2 separate regions of the Homo sapiens genome follow, and region 2 is linked to region 1. Evidence: fine-mapped QTL for protein levels in blood plasma. Region 1 holds a variant in brackets. A gene starts in the other region. All regions are shown on their reverse strands. Region 1 overlaps CYP3A4 (cytochrome P450 family 3 subfamily A member 4). Region 2 holds the start of CXCL11 (C-X-C motif chemokine ligand 11).

The links. PIP is the posterior inclusion probability: the model's chance that the variant is causal. Protein levels are from antibody-based Olink assays in UK Biobank. Linkage for the fine-mapping came from a reference panel and not from the study's own genotypes, which makes the PIPs less certain.
Region 2: it holds the start of CXCL11, and the variant in region 1 is fine-mapped to the plasma level of the CXCL11 protein (UK Biobank, PIP above 0.99).

Annotation. Positions count from the first base shown.
Region 1 is chr7:99,753,413-99,766,063 of GRCh38, reverse strand. CYP3A4 (cytochrome P450 family 3 subfamily A member 4) reads left to right here. Exons shown (of 13, transcript NM_017460.6): 10 at 2,049-2,209; 11 at 3,797-4,023; 12 at 5,083-5,245; 13 at 7,836-9,097. The coding sequence ends at 7,931. CYP3A4-AS1 (CYP3A4 antisense RNA 1) reads right to left here and starts at 2,132. Exons shown (of 1, transcript NR_198962.1): 1 at 1-2,132. RefSeq lists an enhancer at 2,153-2,433. The variant C/G (reference allele first, on the strand shown) is at 7,117.
Region 2 is chr4:76,027,379-76,040,029 of GRCh38, reverse strand. It overlaps CXCL11 (C-X-C motif chemokine ligand 11), which reads left to right and starts at 3,960. Exons shown (of 4, transcript NM_005409.5): 1 at 3,960-4,103; 2 at 4,688-4,814; 3 at 4,911-4,983; 4 at 5,214-6,348. The coding sequence starts at 4,043. The coding sequence ends at 5,237. It also overlaps a transcript of ART3 not described here and the pseudogene RPL36P8.

The DNA.
Region 1 (12,651 bases):
GCCTAGAAATTTATTAGGTTGCTGCAAAATTAATTGTGGGTTTTTCCATTACTTTTAATTGCAAAAAAATGCAATTAAAAGTAATGGCAAAAACCACAATAACTTTTGCAGCTACCTAATACATCTAACATCCAATCAGGAGCCACGCTGTTCCAAAAGGGGTGATTTTAACTGGCAGTACTTGTTGAAAGTGTGTTCACCAGGTTAATCTACTGCAAAGTTATTTTCCACTTTGGAATGGATTAGTAACTTGTGGGGAAAACCTCTGAGACCGTGTAAATATCCTCTTTGTCTTCAATGTTTCACCTACGAGTTTTACAACCCATGTATGTTTTTTACTGAAGTCACTATTACTATGACAGTGGCAAAATGATGACCATGGTCAATTACAAGCCACCAAGACTTGGCAACCATCTCACAAAATTCCTGAATATTTAACTATTGGTTCTAGAGAGCAGGACTGGGCTTACTCCAGCATACTGCTTTAAATATATCCATGTCTACATCCACTTTTGTCTGTATGTCTATGTATCTATCTATGTATCTATCTAGCTATGTATCTATCTATCTATCTATCATCTATCTATCTATCATCTATCCATCTATCATCTATCATTTATCCATCTATCATCTATCTACTTATATATTATCTATCTATCATCTAACTATTCATCTATCTATCCCAATATAACTTGCTGTGATAAAGGAAATAGTCTATTGTTTTACTGTTTCATATAGAAATCACTAGACACATATGGCTATTGAGCACTGGATATGTGGCTAGTGCCATTGAAGATCAATTTTAAATGGTATTTCAGTTTAATTTAATAAAATTTGATTTTAAATAGCCACTAGTGGGTAGTGGCTACCATATTGGACAGCAGAGCTCTAAACTTTGAGATTATAGTTCAATTTCACATCAGTATCATCAGGTTCATGATAACTGAATACTATGATTAGGTAGTTGAATTTACTTATAACTGCATCACAGAAGTCTTCACTGGTAAATCACAGCTCTGTCGACCTTTCTCACACTCCTTTCATATTGGTTTTGGTTGTGAATTACATGGTTGGAGCAGGCATTATATTTATTTCTATGTTCCAGGTCTCTAAAGGTCCTAATCCAGTCCTGATCAAACAGACCAGTGATGGACCATCCTGAGCTTCTCTCAGGAGAAAAATCAAGAGGGGCCCAACTTGTAATCATAGGAGCTTATGCTATTTTAATGCCATCCATCAGACTACAATCAATTACCACTCATCTAGCTTTTTGTCCATCTCTCATTCTTGTACATCCTGAGATAGTCAATTCTGAGAACTGTAGCCTAGATCTATCACCTGATGCCTCTCAAAGATATAATCCGTGCTTCTCAAGCTAGGCTATGCACACAAATCACTGCATCTTGTGAAAGTTCAGATTTTGAATCAGTAGTTCAAGGGTGGGGTTTGAGATTTTGCATTTCTAATGAGCTCTCAGATGCTTCTGACCCATGGACCACACTTTGAATACCAAGAAGTGGTCTGTAGACCAATATTGGTCCCTTAAGTTCCCTCAAACATATCTTCGGGAAACGTCCTTTGATTTTCCCTACATTTAACCATTAGTGTTGCAAATTCTCTCAAAGTTTGTCAAGATATATTGTAGCTAAAATAAATTACATTTTTCTTGGGGGAGAGTACTACCTCATATTAACTTACAATAAAGTACTTTTAGGATCATTCAAGGAACACACCCATAACACTGAGTATGTTATGCGGAAATGCTCTCTCTGGAAATTACACAGCTGTGCAGGTGGCGGGGGTGGCATGAGGAGGAGTGGATGGCCCACATTCTCGAAGACCTTGGGGAAAACTGGATTAAAATGATTTGCCTTATTCTGGTTCTGTAAGATACACATCAGAATGAAACCACCCCCAGTGTACCTCTGAATTGCTTTTCTATTCTTTTCCCTTAGGGATTTGAGGGCTTCACTTAGATTTCTCTTCATCTAAACTGTGATGCCCTACATTGATCTGATTTACCTAAAATGTCTTTCCTCTCCTTTCAGCTCTGTCCGATCTGGAGCTCGTGGCCCAATCAATTATCTTTATTTTTGCTGGCTATGAAACCACGAGCAGTGTTCTCTCCTTCATTATGTATGAACTGGCCACTCACCCTGATGTCCAGCAGAAACTGCAGGAGGAAATTGATGCAGTTTTACCCAATAAGGTGAGTGGATGGTACATGGAGAAGGAGGGAGGAGGTGAAACCTTAGCAAAAATGCCTCCTCACCACTTCCCAGGAGAATTTTTATAAAAAGCATAATCACTGATTCTTTCACTGACTCTATGTAGGAAGGCTCTGAAAAGAAAAAGAAAGAAACATAGCAAATGGTTGCTACTGGCAGAAGCGTAAGATCTTTGTAAAACGTGCTGGCTCTGGTTCATCTGCTTTCTATTACTACAATAATGCTAAGTAAAAAACCTCCAAAAACCTCAGTGGCATCTAACAATAAGCATTTGTTGCTCACACTCATTTCACATTGGTTTTGGTTGTGAATTACATGTTTGCAGCAGGCACCATAGTGGTGTGTGATGTCCCCTTAGCTGTATCCACATATGGACACAGGAATTTGCTCTTTTTATCTCTTTTTATTTTCTTGGTTACAGACATGTGACTTTTTTTTTTGAAAGGTAACAATCACTTTCTCATATGTTATTTGATGCTAGTGGTCATAGCCTATTAGTCACATTTGTTTCAATGAGAAAGAAAAACCAGTACACGGTTATGCTAAGGATTTCAGTCCCTGGGGTGAGAGCCGTCTCGAATGTCTCCCCACTTCATAACTCCTCCACACATCATAGTTGGATAGTGAGCTCTGCTGATATTGGCAGGACTTGCTCTGGTCTGGCTGTAGTCTGACGGAGCCTGGCCCTGGGTGTGCTGTGCAGGCTGACTCAGCTCTCCCCACACCTATCTCATGTTCCAGTCAGGCAGTAACTGGTGAAGAAGCCAAGCTAGGAACCAGGATATCTGGCTCCTGAGCTAAAGTCTTAAAACACTATCATATTGCCTTCCAAATATAACACCAAATACTAGGTGCATATCACCCACACTGTTTTCAGACCTCTGCCAAAATTGGGATTCTTTGTGGTATGAAGAGACACGGCTTTGGGGCTGGCCCGGCTGTGGCAGTGAGGTGAACACAAAGGGATGTTCTTCAGAGATTACAGTCCAGCCCTGAAGCAACAACTAGGAGACTGTTTCAGCAAGTGAGGACAGGGCTGTGTGGGGTTCTATCCTCTTTATAACTTCCACTAGCACTGAAATCGTGTTCTCTGGTTACATCCAACCAGAACCTTCTTTGTCATTTTTGGGATAGAAAGGGACTAGTTTATCCTCAAATTATTTATGGAGATTTTATATAATATAGTGTTTCTCTCCACATTTTCTGTATATAACAAAAGTCCTCCTTTTAGTGTGTGTATACACATATATATACACATATATATGTGTGTGTGTATGTGTGTGTGTATATATATATAGACATATATACACGGTTATGCTAAGGATTTCAGTCCCTGGGGTGAGAGCCTTCCCGAATGCTTCCCACCTTCATAACTCCTCCACACATCTCAGTGGGCCACTGAGCACAGCAATGGGCATGACAGTTATTAAAACACTTTATAAATGCTTCGATCCTTTACCAGTATGAGTTAGTCTCTGGAGCTCCTAATACTTCATTAGTACTGCATGGACTGAGTTAAAAGTTAATTCAAAATCTCAATTTATCCAAATCTGTTTCGTTCTTTCCAGGCACCACCCACCTATGATACTGTGCTACAGATGGAGTATCTTGACATGGTGGTGAATGAAACGCTCAGATTATTCCCAATTGCTATGAGACTTGAGAGGGTCTGCAAAAAAGATGTTGAGATCAATGGGATGTTCATTCCCAAAGGGGTGGTGGTGATGATTCCAAGCTATGCTCTTCACCGTGACCCAAAGTACTGGACAGAGCCTGAGAAGTTCCTCCCTGAAAGGTACAAGGCCCCTGGGAAGGGAGCCCTCCCTGAACCAGCCTGGTTCAAGCATATTCTGCCTCTCTTAATCTACAGGACAGTCATGTGGTTGTATAATTATTTGCTTGTATTTTTATATTTAGAGATTTTTTTAATCATCAAATTGATTATTGTCACACTTTACAAACCATAGACTAGAAAAAAGAAAACTACAGTCATCCACAATTCCAACAACTTACGATGAAGGTCATCAGTTATGTCCTTATGGGTCATCAGTGTCCAAAATGTAAGGACTCTTTTAAAAACACATGATCACAATGCTATTATTATGTCCCCCAAATGAATATTTTTTTCATAAATATAATCAAATATTTAGGAATAACATTTTAATAAAAAACATGCATCTAATCTTCAAAGAATTTTATAGCTTACTGGAACAGATAGACAAAGAAAGCAGTGATGATACTGCATTACATCGGTACAGTAGCATCATATGCCTGTGTAAATTATCTGACTTCAACTATTCTATGGAGGTGTGGGGGAGAAAGAGGGAGAGATGGAGAGAAGAAGAAGGAGGAGAAGGAGGGAGAAGACAAGGTAAGGAGGAGAAGGAGGAGAATTAGAAAAACAAGAGAGGAGATGAGAAGGAAAGTGCAAAATAACAATTTTGAAATAGTACAAGACAATTTCCCCTTCTCCTTCCTCATGACCAATGTAAGTGTGACTTGAGGCAGGAACCTACTTTTCCATCAGTCAGTCCCATCACTTATGTGCCTTTTATAGTGTGGACACATCACCACCCTGAATATAATTTCAGTGTTTAGAAATAAGTATTCTTTGCAACACTATTTATCTCATCTCAACAAGACTGAAAGCTCCTATAGTGTCAGGAGAGTAGAAAGGATCTGTAGCTTACAATTCTCATAGCAAAATAAGCATAGCAGGATTTCAATGACCAGCCCACAAAAGTATCCTGTGTACTACTAGTTGAGGGGTGGCCCCTAAGTAAGAAACCCTAACATGTAACTCTTAGGGGTATTATGTCATTAACTTTTTAAAAATCTACCAACGTGGAACCAGATTCAGCAAGAAGAACAAGGACAACATAGATCCTTACATATACACACCCTTTGGAAGTGGACCCAGAAACTGCATTGGCATGAGGTTTGCTCTCATGAACATGAAACTTGCTCTAATCAGAGTCCTTCAGAACTTCTCCTTCAAACCTTGTAAAGAAACACAGGTTAGTCAATTTTCTATAAAAATAATGTTGTATTAATAATTCTTTTAACTGAGTGGTCTGTATTTTTTAAAAAGAATATGCTTGTTTAATCTTTTACTAATTTGTTCTCTGGGCCAAAGAATCAATTAGGCCCATCTGTGATCTTTAAGGGTGCTTCAGTTCTGGAGTTCAAAAGCTGTAGCATCAAAAACATCATGTAAAGCCCATGTAGATTAGCATGGCATAATTATCTGCAGTCTCCTTGAACTTGAGCAAAGTTTACATTCAGTTTCAAGTCGATTGGAAAGATGGGGAAGTATTTTGCACAGTCATGAAGTGTAATGATTACCTTGTTGTGACTTTTGAATGCTGCTCTTCCCAACCAGAACTTGGAGAAGCTTTCTCATGAGAGTGGCTCCCAACCACTAGCTGTACATTGGAATCACCAGGGAGCTTTAAAAATTCATGATGTCTGGGATATCACAGAAATTCTAAACTAATTTGCCCAGAGTGTGGCTTTAAAAGCTTCCCCATTGCTTCTCATGTGAAGCCAAGGTTGAGAATGACTAATTTAAGGCATTTCTGGTGGATATAAAGGACTACCACAGTCCAAGGCCATCCTGACTGACCTCACCTTCCAGGTGCCTAGCTCCATCCAGCTGGGCTCCTTTTCAACCCAATTATAACTCTATTAATGTTGTTCCCAGCCAGGCATGGTGGCTCATGCCTGTAATCCCAGCACTTTGGGAGGCCGAAGCAGGCGGATCATGAGGTCAGGAGATCGAGACCATCCTGGCTAACACGGTGAAACCCCGTCTCTACTAAAAATACAAAAAATTACCCTGGAGAGGTGGCAGGCACCTGTAGTCCCAGCTACTCTGGAGGCTGAGGCAGGAGAATGGCATGAACCCCAGGGAGCGGAGCCTGCAGTGAGCCGAGATTGGGCCACTGCACTCCAGCCTGGGTGACAGCGAGACTCTGTCTCAAAAAAAAAAAAATGTTGTTCCCTTTCTCCTCATTTTGTTCTTATCTTTCAAGTCCTAGTTCAATCCCCAAGCCCCTCCAAAGTGTCTTCTCCTCCTAGTCCAGGGCCCATTTACTTCTCTGCTCTGTTATTGGATACTGGAGGCTATTATCATAAATTTGACAATTTGCCATTAAATCATTGAGTTTTATTCTCTATATTTTCTTTGTATCTAAAATGTCTTCCCCCCTCCATTAACAATATCCTCTCATTTTATTCCTTTTTAAAATATCCCAGTGGTGCCTTGCAAGGGACTGTATCTAATGCAAGCATTTGGTAAATGTTTAAGGAGTGATGTGCAGTTGATGGCTTGCATACATATATTAAGCTATTTAATGTGAACCTTTAAACAAATGCCATTCGTGCATATGCATGTGTGTGTGTGTGTGTGCACATGTGGGCATGCATGTCTGTCTGCAGTGAAAATATATTCAGGGTTTTTGAAAATTTTTAAATAATAAGGTATTATATTTATAGAAAGATTTGAAATATTTTCTCTGAAGAAGTTAAAGAACAGACGTCATTGATTCATATTAAACAATACCCTATAAATCTTATTTCTAGGTCTCATGTATTTATTATTCAATTCCACCCCTTAAGTAGGCTTTCTATATAGGAGAGGAAGAAGACAGAAATAGTTTCCATATTATTTCCATATTCCATATTATTTGTGGCTTTAGGCCAGCAGTGTAGCTGTATTATATGTGCCCAGACAGGGGACTCAGCCCTGAATAAAAGTGGTCCTCTGGCACACCTGGGATGGGGAAGGTACTCCTTGGTAAGCTCCCAACCTGGCACTTCTTGATCTCCCTGGCAATTTTCTTGCCCATTACTCCATGGAGATCAGAATATCACTCTGTTGTGTCCC[C/G]TCAACACGGAAGGAGTGTCTCAATAAGAATGGGGCTAAAAGTTGAGTCCAAACACTGTAGGAATTGAGAGGTTCCCCACTTGCACTACCCTTGGAAGCCAAGAGAAGATGTTAAAAAATAAAATGGTAATGCTTCCTGAAGGTGTCTTCCCATCTTTACACTGGATGGGTTCAATTGGGAGGAATTACTGGACTCTGGAAGTTGAAGACTGTCCATATAATTAAAATGTACAATAACTACCCAGGTTTACCTTGCAAGTTTCAACATACACAAAATTAACTTTATATGACTCTTCAAAAACAGTTTGCCATCATACCTAATAATCTGGTTTAAATTTTAAAAACTCATCCATTTTACTTAAAATTTAAATCAAAAAAGAACACAGGTTTCCATGAATTTGTCTCAGGCCTGGCACAGAATAGTACTCCATAAATATTTTGTTAAATGATAGATGATGAATGCTCTCACTGTCCAATCTTCACACATCTTATAGACTAAGTATAAAGAATCCAAGATTTATAGTGCTGAAAGTAGTTTTTATATGTTTACAAAGCATTATTGTCATTACTGCATTTTTTTTGCCCATTACTCCATAGAGATCAGAATATCACTCTGTTGTGTCCCCTCAACACTGAAGGAGTGTCTCACTCACTTTGATGCTATACTTTCTACTTTTGTTTATTTAATGCTTCTCAATATGCTTGTTTAACTGTTGCAGATCCCCCTGAAATTAAGCTTAGGAGGACTTCTTCAACCAGAAAAACCCGTTGTTCTAAAGGTTGAGTCAAGGGATGGCACCGTAAGTGGAGCCTGAATTTTCCTAAGGACTTCTGCTTTGCTCTTCAAGAAATCTGTGCCTGAGAACACCAGAGACCTCAAATTACTTTGTGAATAGAACTCTGAAATGAAGATGGGCTTCATCCAATGGACTGCATAAATAACCGGGGATTCTGTACATGCATTGAGCTCTCTCATTGTCTGTGTAGAGTGTTATACTTGGGAATATAAAGGAGGTGACCAAATCAGTGTGAGGAGGTAGATTTGGCTCCTCTGCTTCTCACGGGACTATTTCCACCACCCCCAGTTAGCACCATTAACTCCTCCTGAGCTCTGATAAGAGAATCAACATTTCTCAATAATTTCCTCCACAAATTATTAATGAAAATAAGAATTATTTTGATGGCTCTAACAATGACATTTATATCACATGTTTTCTCTGGAGTATTCTATAAGTTTTATGTTAAATCAATAAAGACCACTTTACAAAAGTATTATCAGATGCTTTCCTGCACATTAAGGAGAAATCTATAGAACTGAATGAGAACCAACAAGTAAATATTTTTGGTCATTGTAATCACTGTTGGCGTGGGGCCTTTGTCAGAACTAGAATTTGATTATTAACATAGGTGAAAGTTAATCCACTGTGACTTTGCCCATTGTTTAGAAAGAATATTCATAGTTTAATTATGCCTTTTTTGATCAGGCACAGTGGCTCACGCCTGTAATCCTAGCAGTTTGGGAGGCTGAGCCGGGTGGATCGCCTGAGGTCAGGAGTTCAAGACAAGCCTGGCCTACATGGTTGAAACCCCATCTCTACTAAAAATACACAAATTAGCTAGGCATGGTGGACTCGCCTGTAATCTCACTACACAGGAGGCTGAGGCAGGAGAATCACTTGAACCTGGGAGGCGGATGTTGAAGTGAGCTGAGATTGCACCACTGCACTCCAGTCTGGGTGAGAGTGAGACTCAGTCTTAAAAAAATATGCCTTTTTGAAGCACGTACATTTTGTAACAAAGAACTGAAGCTCTTATTATATTATTAGTTTTGATTTAATGTTTTCAGCCCATCTCCTTTCATATTTCTGGGAGACAGAAAACATGTTTCCCTACACCTCTTGCATTCCATCCTCAACACCCAACTGTCTCGATGCAATGAACACTTAATAAAAAACAGTCGATTGGTCAATTGATTGAGCAATAAGCCTAAAAGCACTCATTCCTTTTCTTTTCCAAATTCTTCCTTTATTTTCCCTTCCTGAATAATTTAGTCCTAAAGCCATTAGGTGGGTGGCAGCCAGATGGTGGCCACACATTAAGGTAGAGAAGAGAGAGTCATGGTGGCTCCAAGTCAGAGACCAAGGAGGTTCATGTGGAGAGACATCCTGGCCTGGGTGTGGGAGTCCAAGCAAGCAGAGAAGGGGTCGACGCAGAGGGGTGGCTTGCAAGAGCAGCCAGAGCCTAAATAGGGTATGGAGAACCCACATGAGGCGAGGAGGGCATCCATGAGTGGGAGGGGTTGGGTGAGGTTTGGCTACATAAAGGGGATTGATCAAATAAGTAAATGTATTAAGGATGATAGAAGCCAGGCTTCTCACCTTTGCAGAAGGGAGTCATGGATTCAGAAAGGGAGAAAACTAGCATGAATCCTATGAAATTAGATTGGAATGGATGTAACCGTGTATATTCATACCCTTGTAGATAGATAGATGGGTAGATAGATGATAGATAGGTAACAGATAGATGACAGATAATGAGATAGATAGATGTAAATGTATGTCTGTATTTGTGTGTGTGTACAAAAAACATATATTCCCTACTTCTCTCCACTGATAGGGCTAGGTAACAATGACATTTCAATAGCAATGAACACACTTAGTGCCCCGATCTTGGCTTATGAATACCATTTTCCACTGAAGGGAACCAGAGCTCTTTAGAGAAATGGCTGATGCCAGGGCAAGAATTAAGAATGTTCAAGATAAGTTTAGGACACATTTTGTGCCAGGAAGCAAGAAAATTTTCAAATAATTTCCAAGTAATCTTTGGAAATGATACTTGAAAATGACTTCCAAATGACATTTCCAAATGACTTGCAAACGATTTCCAAATGATATTTGGAAAAACCTAAAGACTCCATCAAAGAACTATTGGAACTGATAAACACATTCAGTAAAGTTGCAGGATACAAAATCAGCATACAAAAATCAGTAGCATTTCTATATGCCAATAGTGAACAATCTGGCAAAAATAAAAAAGTAATCCCATTTACAATAGCCACAAATAAAACTAAATACCTAGAAATTAACTTAATCAAAGAAGAGAAAGGTCTCTACAATGAATACTGTAAAACATTGATGAAAGGAATTGAAGACACAAAAAAGGATATTTCATGTTTATATATTGTGAGAATCAACATTGTTAAAAATGTCCACACTACTCAAAGCAATGTACAGATTCAATGCAATCCCTCAAAATACCAATGACATTCTTCAAATAAATAGAAAAAAATCCCATAATTTGTATGGAACCACAAAAGACCCATAATAGCCAAAGCTATCTTCAGCAAAAAGAACAAAACTGGAGGAATCATGTTACCTGACTTCAAATTATACTACAGAGGTACAGTAACCAAAACAGCATGGTTCTTGTATAAAAACAGACACATAGACCAATGAAATAGAAAAGAGAACCCAGAAACAAATGCAAACACCTACAGTGAACTCATTTTTGACACTGCTACCAAGAACATACCCTGGGGAACAGAACATCTCTTCAATAAATGGTGCTGGGAAAGCTGGATATCAATATGCAGAAGAATGAAACTAGACACCTATATCTCACCAGACACAAAAATCAAATCAAGGTGGATTAAAGGCTGAAATCTGGCTGAGCAGGGTGACTCATGACTGTAATCTCAGTACTTTGCAGAACTTTGAGAGGTCAAGGTGGGCAGATCACTTGAGGTCAGGAGTTCGAGACCAGCCTGGCCAACATAGTGAAACCCCATCTCTACCAAAAAATACACAAGTTAGCTGGGCATGGTGGTGCATTCCTGTAGTCCCAGCTAGTCCAGAAGCTAAGGTGGGAGAATCATTTGGACCTGGGAGGTGGAGGCTGCAGTGGGCCGAGATCATTCCAATGCACCTCATCCTGGGCAACAGAGTGAGACAGACTGAAGTCTAAGACCTCAAGCTATGAAGCTGCTACAAGAAAACATTGTGGAAACTCTTCAGGACATTGGTCTGGGCAAAAATTTCTGAAGTAATACCCCACAAGCACAGGCAACCAAAGCAAAAATGGACAAATGGAATCACATCAAGTTAAAAAGCTTCCGTGCCGCAAAAAAAGTAATCAACAAAGTGAAGACACAAACCACAGAATGGGAGAAAATACTTTCAAACTAACATTCTGACAACAGATTAATAGCCAGAATATATAAAGAGCTCAAACAACTCTGTAGGAAACAATCTAATAATCCAATCAAAAAATGGGCAAAAGATTTGAATAGATATTTCTCTCTCTCTTTTTTTTAATTTTGAGACGGAGTCTCTCTCTGTCGCCCAGGCTGGAGTGCAGTGGCACTATCTCGGCTCACTGTAAGCTCCTCCTCCTGGGTTCATGTCATTCTCCTGCCTCAGCCTCCCGAGTAGCTGGGACTACAGGTGCCCGCCACCATGCCTGGCTAATTTTTTTGTATTTTTAGTAGAGACGGGGTTTCACTGTGTTAGCCAGGATGGTCTCGATCTCCTGACCTCGTGATCCACCCGCCTTGGCCTCCCAAAGTGCTAGGATTACAGGCGTGAGCCACCGCGCCCGGCCTGAATAGACATTTCTCAAAAGAAGACAGACAAATGCCACATAGGCATATGATAAGGTGCTCAACATCATTGATCATTAGAGAAATGAAATAAAAAACTATAGTGAGATAGCATCTCACCCCAGCTAAAATGGCTTTTATCCAAAAGACAGGCAATAATAAATGCCAGCAAGAATGTGGAGAAAAGGAAACCCTTGTACACTGTTGGTGTAAATTAGTATAACCACTATAGAGAACAGTTTGGAGGTTCCTCAAAAAATTAAAAGAAAGCTACCATAAGATCCAGAAATCACAGTGCTTCGGTATATACCTGAAAGAACGGATATCCGTATACTGAAGAGATATCTTCACGCTCATGTTCACAATAGCCACTACTCACAAATGCTAAGATGTGGAAGCAACCTAAGTGTCCATCAACAGATGAATGGATAAAGAAAGTGCTCCACTTATACACAATGGAGTACAATTCAGATACGAAAAAAGCATGAGATCTTGTTATCTGTAATAACATGGATGGAACTGGAGGTCATCATGTTAAGTGAAATAAGCCAGGCACAGAAAGACAGACATTGCATGTTCTCACTTATTTGCAGGATCTACAAATCAAAACAATTGAGCTAATGTCTGGGTCTTAGTCAATTTTGTACCCTAAGTACTGTGAGCACAGCTTTTAAAATACATGATGAATGCTTTAATACAGGAATGAATAGATAAGAGGCACAGGGTGCCTCTGGGTGTTCTTCTGATACATAGTATCTTCCTTGACACATTCAGTACAACTCTCAGCAGGTAAGTCTCTTCATGTTATGTTACCTTCTGAGGAATTAGGTGGCAGAACATGCCTTCTACTATTTTCCTTTGCAGAACAAGACCAGTTGCATTAGTTGGGACACAGTGCTGGCTACATTTGAGTCCCAAGCAACGATTAGTCTATTGCT
Region 2 (12,651 bases), not on the chromosome of region 1:
AAAATATCAGATATTACCTTTGCAGTAAGGAAGAAAATAAAACAATAGAAAATAAAATACAGTAGTCCCCTTGTTATCCTTGGGGGATACATTCCAAGACTCCCAGCAGAGTACTGAAGGAGAAAATTGTGATCCACAGTTTTTCTACACAGCTAAGTAGTAATTCACACATGAAGGCAAAAGGAAGAGTTTAGTCTTGTTTTATGTAAATTTGAATTATGTCTATTTTCTATTTAAAATAGTATAATGTAAAAATATGTTTAATAATTTCCAGGGTCTTTTTAAAAAAATTAAGAATCCCTATTTAAGAAATTGTCTTACACCAAAGCTATATGACAACACTTTAGCTAGTAAGCAGAAATATTCACTATTGTTTGTCTATATTATTTGAACTATGCTATTGCATTCATGCACTTTCTGTAAGTGATTTTTATGATTAGTATGCTATTTTTATATTCATGGTTATTATAATTTAAAATATTTTTATATGCTATAACAATGTCAACTCATCTTTTATTAAGTGGTTGTGTTTGTGTTAATGCTGAAAAACAGCTGAAAACAAGCTAGATGTGGTATGCCAATTCAGGAAAGGACACTGATAATAATAATAGCAGTTAATACATTTTGAGTGCTACATATTTTTCTAAATGATTAATATGCATTACCTCTTTTAATACCTAGTTTATAACAGCCCTATGAAAAAGGGGTCTGAGACCAGCCTGGCCAACATGGTAAAACCCCATCTCTACTAAAAATACAAAAATTGGCTGGGCGTGGTAACACATGCCTGTAATCCCAGCTACTTGGGAGGCTGAGGCAAGAAAATCGCTTGAACCCAGGAGGCGGAGGTTGCAGTAAGCCGAGATCATGCCACTGCACTCCAGCCTGGGTGGCACAGAGAGACTCCATCTCAAAAAAAAAAAAAAGTACTATTATTATCCCCAGTCTATAGATGAGAAAATAGCCTCAAAAAGTTGAGGTAACTTGTTCATAAATAACTGAATGTGGGCTGGGCACAGTGGCTCACGCCTGTAATCCCAGCACTTTGGGAGGCCAAGGCGGCAGGATCACCTGAGGTTAGGAGTTCAAGACCAGCTTGGCCAACATGGCTAAACACCATCTCTACTAAAACTATAAAAATTAGCCAGGCATGGAGGCACGCACCTGTAATCCCAGCTACTTGGGAGGCTGAGGCAGGCGAATCACTTGAATCCAGGAGGCAGAGGCTGTGGTGAGTCGAGATCACACCACTGCACTCCAGCCTGGGCTACAGAGCAAGAATCCATCTCAAAGATAAATAAATAAATAAATAAATAAATAAATAAATAAATAATCAAGGGTGGATTTGAACACAGGCTGACTCTAGAGCCTTCCCTATTAACAACTATGCTCTACTGTGTTTCTAATGCTGAGAAAATGAAAAGCAACATTAAAAAATAATAACAGATAAGGATTTATGAGCTCCAAGAACACATTCCTTTTACTTTACCCATATTCCTGAGGGAAAATTAGTCTTTCTTTACATATGTTAAATGAATTAATGGAAAAGAAGGAAAGAATATTCCAGCTACTTGGAAATTAATTAAAATACAGTAGCCCCCTCACCTTATCCTTGGGGGATATGTTCCAAGACCCCCAATGAGTGCCTGAAACTGCAGATAGTACTGAGCCCTGTATATATTGTATTTTTTCCTGTACATATATACCTATAAAAAAGTTTGATTTATAAATTAGCCACAGTAAGAGCATCAACATTAATATATAGAATAATTACAACAATATTCTGTAATAAAAGTTAAGTGACTGTGTAGTCTCTCTCTCTTCAAATATCTTATTGTACTATACTCACTCTTCTAGTGATGCTGTGAAATGATAAAATGTCTATGTGATGGGATGAAGTGATGGAGCAAGATGATGTGAGATTTCATCATGCTACTCAGAAAAGTGCACAATTTAAAACTTATGAATTATTTCTAGAATTTCTCATTTAATGGGGGACTACTGTAAAGACTTTCAAAGGTTTTAAAGACTAGTCATGGTTGTTAAAGAATTTAAATGCAGGATTATATCTAAATAAATATATAATTTCAAGATAAAATGCAAATGATAATTCTCAAAAAAAGAAGTTGAATAAGATAAAATAATAATCTAAAAGTAATAAACTGGCTATAAATTCCCCGATTATACCAACTTTTATTGGTAAAACTAGGAAATAGGAGAAAATTCTTGAAAGAAAGTTACAGTGATTTTCTCATGTTACAAAGACAGGAGCTAAAAAAATATTATTGATGGTTGATGTAAATAATTAGAAAAATTCAGGTAAAAATCTTTTTAAAGAATTTTAAGAATTAATATCAAAATGTAAAACAATGTATTCCTTTCAAATTACTTAAGGAAGGCCAAGCACCGTGGCTCATCCCAGTAATCCTAGCACTTTGGGAGACCAAGGCAGGAGGATTGCTTGAGGCCTGGAGTTCATGGCTGCAGTGAGCTATGATTGTGCCACTCGACTCCAGAATGGTGACAGAGTGAGACCCATCTCATTAAAAAAAACAAAAATGGCTTCAAAAAGTTAAATAAAATATATTTAAAGTTAGAAAGAAATCAAAGAAAACATAAAGAATCAGCAAGGAAGCATTTTAAAAATTACAGATTACCAGTTATACAGTAAATATATTTTATTAAGCTTACCCATTAGAAAGCTCCTTTGATATGATTTTCTTAAACATCTACAAGTGACACACTTAAAACAAAGATTTAGGAAGCTTAAGAGGAAAAGATAAAGACAAAAAAATAGGAATTACATCAAAGTAGAATCTCAGAGGTAAAACTATCACATGAGCAAAGAGGATCACTTTTTTTTATGATCCCTAATACAACTCATACAACTTCATGTACTAAGTAACAGTGCTAAAATATATATAAAGTAGCTTTCCACCATGGCCACCATTGGAGGGCAGCAGCCATGACACTGCACTACCCTATAGCTGTGGGCCTCAACAAGGGCCACAAGGTGACCAAGAATGTGAGCAAGCCCAGGCACAGCCACTGTGGGCGCCTGACCAAACTCACTAAATTTGTGTGGGACATGATCCCAGAGGTGTGTGGCTTCACCCCTAACGAGTGGCGTGGCATGGAGTTACTGAAGGTCTCCAAGGTCAAACAGGCCCTCAAATTCATCAAGAAAAGGGTAGGGACAAACATCTGCACCAAGAGAAGGCAGGAGGAGCTGAGCAACGTCCTGGCTGCCATGAGGAAAGCAGCTGCCAAGAAGGACTGAGCCCCCTGCCATCTGCCTATAATGAAAGCTTTGCAGAATAAAATAAATATAAAATAAAGTAATAAAATTAAATTAAATTTAAAAATAAAATAAAGCAAAACAAAATAAAATATATAAAGTAAAAATTGTTGAAAATGCAAAACAATATGGACATAAATACAGAAACACAGGGAAACTTCTTTAGGCACTCATTTACAGGTAAAAATATGAAATTGAATAAAGGTCATCTGGTGTCAAATAATATAGGCCTTATCTATTATAAGAGTTTGGACTGAAAAGCAAAAGTGAGATAATAAAAAAAAGCTTTTCAGAATATTATTTTGTATAGATATGTGAAGGATGAAGGGTGGGTGAAAGGACCAAAAACAGAAACACAGTCTTCCTGAATGAATGACAATCAGAATTCCGCTGCCCAAAGTAGTCCGACAATTAAATGGATTTCTAGGAAAAGCTACCTTAAGAAGGCTGGTTACCATCTGGGTTTTCACAGTGCTTTCACATTCTTATCACTTTCAACACTACTGCAAATAGGAAGGGACAGTAACATTTAGAAGAGAACAAAACAGAAACTCTTGGAAGCAGGAAAGGTGCATGACTCAAAGAGGGAAATTCCTGTGCCATAAAAGGATTGCTGGTGTATAAAATGCTCTATATATGCCAATTATCAATTTCCTTTCATGTTCAGCATTTCTACTCCTTCCAAGAAGAGCAGCAAAGCTGAAGTAGCAGCAGCAGCACCAGCAGCAACAGCAAAAAACAAACATGAGTGTGAAGGGCATGGCTATAGCCTTGGCTGTGATATTGTGTGCTACAGTTGTTCAAGGTATGCAGTAATTTTTATTTCTCAACCTATAAGTTCCTTTTCTAATGTTTCAAATGTCTTTTCTTCCACTTTTATCCTAAAAGACATGATAAAGTTTTATTTAATCTCACAGATTAGAAGTTACTACAGCTTTAGCACAGAAATGGTGGACATGTTTAAGATACTAGAGATGATTATTGAAACTAGAAATTATGAACTTCATGGAATTTTTGATTTGGCTAGAATATCTGGCAAAAGCCTTTAGCAACAGTTTTAAATGTCTGTTAAGAAGATTTTATATAGCGATCATGTTAACAAGCTTCCTGGGAAAATATTTGAGGATAAAATCAAGGGGGCAAAACAAGCTTCACCTCCAATAAACTTCCTTCATGCTTCCCATTTGTTAGCGATTTGCTTACTAATTTAATGAGAAAATAATCAACATCTTACTTAACTTTTCCCAGTAACAGTTGTGTTAAGTGCTATTTGACAAATTACTATCTTTACCCTTAATGAAAATTCTGCTCACGTTCACCACCAGCTATAAACCACAGCCATCTGTTGCAATCAGATGCATTACTAACTAATGCTATGATCTATTCTAGGCTTCCCCATGTTCAAAAGAGGACGCTGTCTTTGCATAGGCCCTGGGGTAAAAGCAGTGAAAGTGGCAGATATTGAGAAAGCCTCCATAATGTACCCAAGTAACAACTGTGACAAAATAGAAGTGATGTAAGTAATGAACTTGCTGAAGATGACAATGGTGCAGGCTTTTTTGTTTATGTATTTGCATCTAAACTTTAAGACTCTTGTATGTTCTTTTAACAGTATTACCCTGAAAGAAAATAAAGGACAACGATGCCTAAATCCCAAATCGAAGCAAGCAAGGCTTATAATCAAAGTAAGTTACCAAATTACTCCCATGTTATAATCTGTTTTATCCAAGACAGATCTTTTGAAAAAGAAAATAATGTGGACAACTACAGAAAGATTCTGCTATGATCCTGTGTGAAATATTCTGTTAAGGGGTCCTTGGTTGTAACAGCTTCCCCTTCTTACTACATGTTTTTAGATGTCCTGGGGGAAACAAGAACAGCCCAAGTAAATAAAACTCTTGTTTTCTTATTCCAGAAAGTTGAAAGAAAGAATTTTTAAAAATATCAAAACATATGAAGTCCTGGAAAAGAGCATCTGAAAAACCTAGAACAAGTTTAACTGTGACTACTGAAATGACAAGAATTCTACAGTAGGAAACTGAGACTTTTCTATGGTTTTGTGACTTTCAACTTTTGTACAGTTATGTGAAGGATGAAAGGTGGGTGAAAGGACCAAAAACAGAAATACAGTCTTCCTGAATGAATGACAATCAGAATTCCACTGCCCAAAGGAGTCCAACAATTAAATGGATTTCTAGGAAAAGCTACCTTAAGAAAGGCTGGTTACCATCGGAGTTTACAAAGTGCTTTCACGTTCTTACTTGTTGCATTATACATTCATGCATTTCTAGGCTAGAGAACCTTCTAGATTTGATGCTTACAACTATTCTGTTGTGACTATGAGAACATTTCTGTCTCTAGAAGTCATCTGTCTGTATTGATCTTTATGCTATATTACTATCTGTGGTTACGGTGGAGACATTGACATTATTACTGGAGTCAAGCCCTTATAAGTCAAAAGCATCTATGTGTCGTAAAACATTCCTCAAACATTTTTTCATGCAAATACACACTTCTTTCCCCAAACATCATGTAGCACATCAATATGTAGGGAGACATTCTTATGCATCATTTGGTTTGTTTTATAACCAATTCATTAAATGTAATTCATAAAATGTACTATGAAAAAAATTATACGCTATGGGATACTGGCAAAAGTGCACATATTTCATAACCAAATTAGTAGCACCAGTCTTAATTTGATGTTTTTCAACTTTTATTCATTGAGATGTTTTGAAGCAATTAGGATATGTGTGTTTACTGTACTTTTTGTTTTGATCCGTTTGTATAAATGATAGCAATATCTTGGACACATCTGAAATACAAAATGTTTTTGTCTACCAAAGAAAAATGTTGAAAAATAAGCAAATGTATACCTAGCAATCACTTTTACTTTTTGTAATTCTGTCTCTTAGAAAAATACATAATCTAATCAATTTCTTTGTTCATGCCTATATACTGTAAAATTTAGGTATACTCAAGACTAGTTTAAAGAATCAAAGTCATTTTTTTCTCTAATAAACTACCACAACCTTTCTTTTTTAAAAAAAGATCTATATACTTTCCAGGACATTTGAGATGCCTTTAACAATTTTGCCTTATATTTCAGAAACATACACCTATCCGTCATCATGAAAAACTGTTTAGAAATATATTTTAATGGGTAGGTGGGAAAGACAGTTGTTTCTTTTGTCGGCCTTGGGGGGTCTTGATAGTCCAAACCCCCTTCTTACTTGGAGAAAATCCCTTATGTGAGTGTTGGTGGGAGGCCAAAAGAGAGAAGCCAAAGACAGGAGATCCTCTCCTGTAGCCACAACAAGGACTCAGCCATGCTGTTTCTACCCTAGACTTTGAACTCCAGCTGGCATCACAAAGATACTATTAGTAAGAAAATTATTTCAAGCCTGGCAGCAGCAGGAGAAACAATGAAAGTCTTACAGTAGTGTCTTCCCAATGTGTGTTCCTGTAGCATGACTCTGGCTAGTCCTTCCTATCACCTAGTTCCCTTAGGTCTTTGTCCATTTTCCAAGACTTATTCTCCATTGTCCTGTGGATTCTTCAACCTCCAACTAAATTCTTTTTCTCCTTAAGATAGCCAGAGTTGGTTTCTCTGCATGTAACCAAAAGCCTTGACTGATAGCAGTACTCTCTATATAGGCACCCATACATTTGAAAAATAAAAATATTTATTATAGGATTATAATCAGATATATCTATATTGCATTATTATATAGGTTATAGATACAATATAGATTTATAATAAATTGTTATATAAATCTATATAAATATCTATATAGAGATGGGACTTCCATATAAATTCCCTGGATAGTTTTAAGACCTGAATCTGGCTGGGTGCGATGGCTCACATCTGTAATCCCAGCACTTTGGGAGGCCGAAGCGGGCGGATCACCTGAGGTCAGGAGTTCAAGACCAGCATGGCTAACATGGTGAAACCCCATTTCTACTTAAAATGCAAAAAATTAGCCGAGGCTGCTGGCACGTGCCTGTAATCCCAGCTACTCAGGAAGCTGAGGCAGGAGAATCGCTTGAACCCGGGAGGCAGAGGTTGCAGTGAGCTGAGATCATGCCATTGCATTCCAGCTTGGGCAACAAGAGTGAAACTGCACCTCAAAAAAAAAAAAAAAAAAAAGACTTGAATCTAATCTTTGACTACTTACAGTGATTTTTTTTTTAAGTCTCTTTAAAAATAAAAATTCACATAGTCAGCTGGGCATGGTGGCTCACACCTATAATCTGAGCACTTTGGGAGACCAACATAGGTGAATGGCTTAAGCCCAGGAGTTCAAGACTAGCTTGGGCAACATAGCGAAAATTCATCTCTATAAAAAATAGGAAAATTAGCTGGGTATGGTGGCACATGCCTGTAACCTCAGCTACTTGGGAAGCTGAGGTGGATGGATCACTTGGGTCTGGGAGGTTGAGGCTGCAGTCAGCTGTGATCACACCACTGCACTCCAGCCTGGGCAAAAGCCTGCCTCAAAAAAAAAAAAAATTCACAGAGTTAAGGCTGCATGATAAATTGGTATTTGTAAGAAGTATATTAAATATTATAGGCCAGTACATTATTACTGAGAAGAAAACATACACCTAAAGTTCTTCATAGCAAAATAAATATATGAAATATTAATAATTAACATATTTGAGCCAAGATCCTCCCCACCTTGGTACCTTTGCACATACTATTCTCTCTGCCCATTTCTTCACTAAGCTAATGCCTACTAATTGCTTAGGTCTCAGCTTAAATGACTTTTTCTCCAAGAAGCCTTTGAAACCACCACTTCAGCTTTAACTAGATTAGGTGTCCTATTTATTTATTTCCATAACACTCTCTATTTTTCCATCATACTACTTACTGCAATTGTAATTAATGAATTATTCCTGTGCCTAATATCTGCTCTCTCATAAGTGTAAAAGAAAGCTGCTGTAGCCCAGGCCAACAGTACAGTTTCTGGTGCATATCAGACCCTATTGAATGGCAATATAAACTAAGGGAAAAGGAATTTACAGCAGAGGAATGACACAAGGGAATGTACAGTAGTAGGAAGTATAAAGTGATTTTTAGGAATCATAATTAGATTCGTTTGGTTGGAAGGATGAAGGACATGAAACTGTAAATAACCTTGAATTTTACTCTGTACAAAATGGGGATTCAATAAATGTTTGTGAAGAAGAGAGTGACCCTATCAAAGTCATTGGAAAATATTCTGGGAATTGCATGAATGGTTGATTGAAAGTGGGAAAGAGTGGAGGAGGAAAATCAGTTGGGATTTGCTGCAATAGCTGCAATATCTCAGGTCTGTATTTCCAAAACTTCAAGGCATTCTCATATCATCTTTACAATTTTTTTTTAACATTTCTCTGTTTGATCTTCATTATATTTTTAGAAACTCTGTATACCACTTTATTTTACGTACATTTACATGAAAAGTAAACTTTCACTACTGTACATGTAAAATCGGTAATACATGCCATGGAAATAAAATGTAATGATAAAACAAAATACAATGAAAAAATACTAATATTCCCCCTGATTTAATTAATCAGAGGGATTGAAGTTAAGAAGAGAATAATTCACTGATACTAAACGTTATTATCAATGTACATGGTAGTGTCCCACACTTTGGGAAACACTGGTGTGAAAAGTAATGGGGCTGGCTCTGCAATAAGTTAAACATAATTATAGTAATTATATATTACTATATAATCCAGCAATTCCATTCCTAGGTATATACCCAAAAGAACTGAAACAGCTCTTTAAACAAAAACTGGTACACAAATGTTCATAGCAGCATTATACACAACAGCCAGAAAGCAGAAACAACCCAAATATCCATCAACAAGTGAATGGATAAAATGTGGTATACACACACAATAGATTATTCGGCCATAAAAAGGAATGAAGTACTGATACATGCTACAACATGGATGAACCTTGAAAATATGCTAAGTAAAAAAAGCCAGACACAAGGGACCACATATTGTATGATTCCATTTTATAGGAAATATCTAGAGTAGGCAAAACCATAAAAACAAAAAGCAAATTAGCTGACTGGGGTTTGGGGGAGGTGTTAATGAGGAGTAACTACTTAATGAGTATGGAGTTTCTGGGTGATGAAAATGTTCTGGAACTAAATTATGGTGATGGCTTCACAGCACTGTGAAAGTACTTAACTCCACTGAATTGTACTCTTTTAAATGGTTAAAATGGTAAATTTTATGTTATTTGTATTTTACTATCATAAAAAGAAGAAGGGCTACACTAAGGTGGTATTGGTAAGAGTAGAAATATAATGACAAGTACACTGTACAAAAATAATCAAGACAGTGATAGATTGGATGTGAAAGTTGAAGCTGAGGCCAGACACGGTGGCTCACGCCTGTAATCCCAGCACTTTGGGAGGCCGAGGCGGGTGGATCACGAGGTCAGCAGTTCAAGACCAGCCTGGCCAACATGGTGAAACCCCGTCTCTACCAAAGATACAAAAAATTAGCTGGGCATGGTGGTGCATGCCTGTAATCCCAGCTACTCAGGAGGCTGAGGCAGGAGAATCGCTTGAACCCGGGAGGTGGAGGTTGCAGTGAGCCGAGATCGCGTCATTGCACTCCAGCCTGGGCTACATAGAGCGAGACTCCATCTCAGAAAAAGAAAGTTGAAGATGCAAAAAAGAAACAAAGAACATGTTAAGGATTTGAGTCTGAATTTAAAGCAGAGAAGAGACAAGGAAAAAAGGCTGAACTTCTGAGGTCTGAAAGAATAGTTCTGTCACTAACAGAAATAGGGATATGAGGGGGAAGATGTAGTTTAGCAGAAAAAACTGCAGATTCGATTTTAAATACATGGAACTTAAGATGCCAAACACTCACAGTGACTTAAAATTTCAGGACTGTTTCCTCTAATTAGCCAAGAAGAGCTTTCAAACAAATGGAGTAGTTTTGGATAATGCTATTAGAAAAGGAAAGATTATACTTAATTATTTTTGGCTACTGAGTACAGGACCTAATATGCCCACATGGAATTAATATACCTCTTTGTATCTATTTCTGAAAAGATTTTCATAGCCAACAATTATAAATCTTTATGATATGGTCAGCACATTCTGTGGATTATAAGTAGTACACACACAAAAAAAACTGTTAGGGTTTTTTTTGGAGAAGGGGTGAATGAGGCAATTTTAGTTGCTTCTTCTTGCCTTGTCTGCAAATTTTATTAACCAGACACTGGTAATGAAATTGAGCAAGTCTGAGATTATCACATAACACTGAAACCATAGTTTCACTTAAGTACCTAAGAAGAATACGTCCTAAAAATCCTGGCACCATAAGTACAGATGTATTCATAGTTCCTTAGTGCTGCTCAATAAACTGCTACTAAATTGGAAATGCCCTAACGTGAATTATAGACTCTATATAATAAATCCTGACTTAGCATTCTTCTTCAAATTGTTCACAAAGACAAACTGTCAATAAGAAGTTGAAGAAAACTGAATGATAATCTAAAATATGGAATAACAGGCACTACTGAACTATATCATATCTCAAGATTCCTCTTCTCAAAAGAAAAGACAACCAATGATGAATCAATTAAAATTAAAACTAGACATTTTCTAAAGATTTTGATTAAAAATGGAACAAAGTATCACAAAATTCTAATTTATTTTGTTGAAATATCTTATTTATGGGAAGGAGAAAGAAATGCACCATACTTCCCCCAAACACATTTACTTTATTATAATGTCCTCCAATTTTGTCTCTTCCTCCAAATGATGAAATCTGCCATATTTGTAAAAGTCCTCTCAAGTGCGCGAGTTCAGAAACACTGCATAGCCTAAAATGTATCCAAACAGAAGCTATTCTGAGCCTCTGCCTCCTCCAATGCCATGATGATTGTTAGGGTCTACCACCCACTTTGCCAGCACTCAGTTTGCCCTCTGCTTAGGCTGGCTATGAAGGATGAGACACATGGGTAATTGAAAAGTATGTAACCAGTATTACCAAACACTGTGAGCTCGGGGAATCTTTTGAGAGCTCAGAGTGAAAACTGTGAAGGGGAAGCTTTGCCCTGCTCTCCCATACTTTCCAAGGCATATTCTGCACCAGCTGAGGGGATTCCCAGTCCACAGAAATCACTGATGTCCTCCTGCTCACTTTTTAGAAAATTTCTTCTAAGCATAACAGTTTCCGGGAAAGCATTTTTGCCTTCGTCTGTGCTCATTAGTTTGTCAGGGCAGACTGTTCCTTTTTTCATTGTTGTCTTTTTTGGCCTGATGCCATAATCACAGGCTTAAAGATAAATCAATAGCGACTGAAACGGAAACTAAAGCGGGATACTTCCTTAACTTTCATTTTCTTTCAAAATTATACTCAGATCAGTGAATTCTAGGAACGTGATTATACCATAAACGTTGCAAAAATTGAGAGAAATATATAAAAAGAGTTATCATTTAGATTTTTATTCAAATGACACATGCAGTCTTGGCTTTGGGTGAAATAAGTAATAGTGGGCTTGCTACTGTCTCTAAAAGTTTGATTTTTTTTTTCTAAATGATTTTCCATGTTGATCACATTTGTCAGGTTTCTACCCTGAGCAGAACCCTCATTTAAAACAAGAAGAGAAGGGTCCTTCGTTTGACTCTGCTCACCAGGTACTGTTCTGATACTAATTCAATTTCCTAGGCAATCTGATCTTGGGAAAGGGGTGACTTGGATACCAAAACCAATCATCCTAGTCACTGAAAAGGTTCTCATTGTAAATGGATACACTGTCTTTTAATTTTCATCTTAGTCTATCTGAGATTTGGTTAGCAGAGTTAACTCTCTGAGAATATGCTTACCCTGGATGATTAGGAAAAAATGAGAATTTCTGGACTGGAAAAACTGAGGACCAGATTTTATAGAATCCTAACACGGCATTATCACCCCTATGAGTCTACCAATCTTCCTGACTGGTTGGTTGGCTTCCCCCTTTACCATTTTTTGATGACATTTATCTGTCATCAAATGTAATGGATTGTAATGGATACACTGTCTTTTAATTTTCATCTTAGTCTATCTGAGATTTGGTTAGCAGAGTTAACTCTCTGAGAATATGCTTACCCTGGATGATTAGGAAAAAATGAGAATTTCTGGACTGGAAAAACTGAGGACCAGATTTTATAGAATCCTAACACGGCATTATCACCCCTATGAGTCTACCAATTTTTCTGACTGGTTGGTTGGCTTCCCCCTTTACCATTTTTTGATGACATTTATCTGTAATTGCACAAGCTTTCCTCTCCTGGCCACTTACTTAAGTAACATTCACACTTTATGGCTCATCTGAGGTCTTTTTTTCT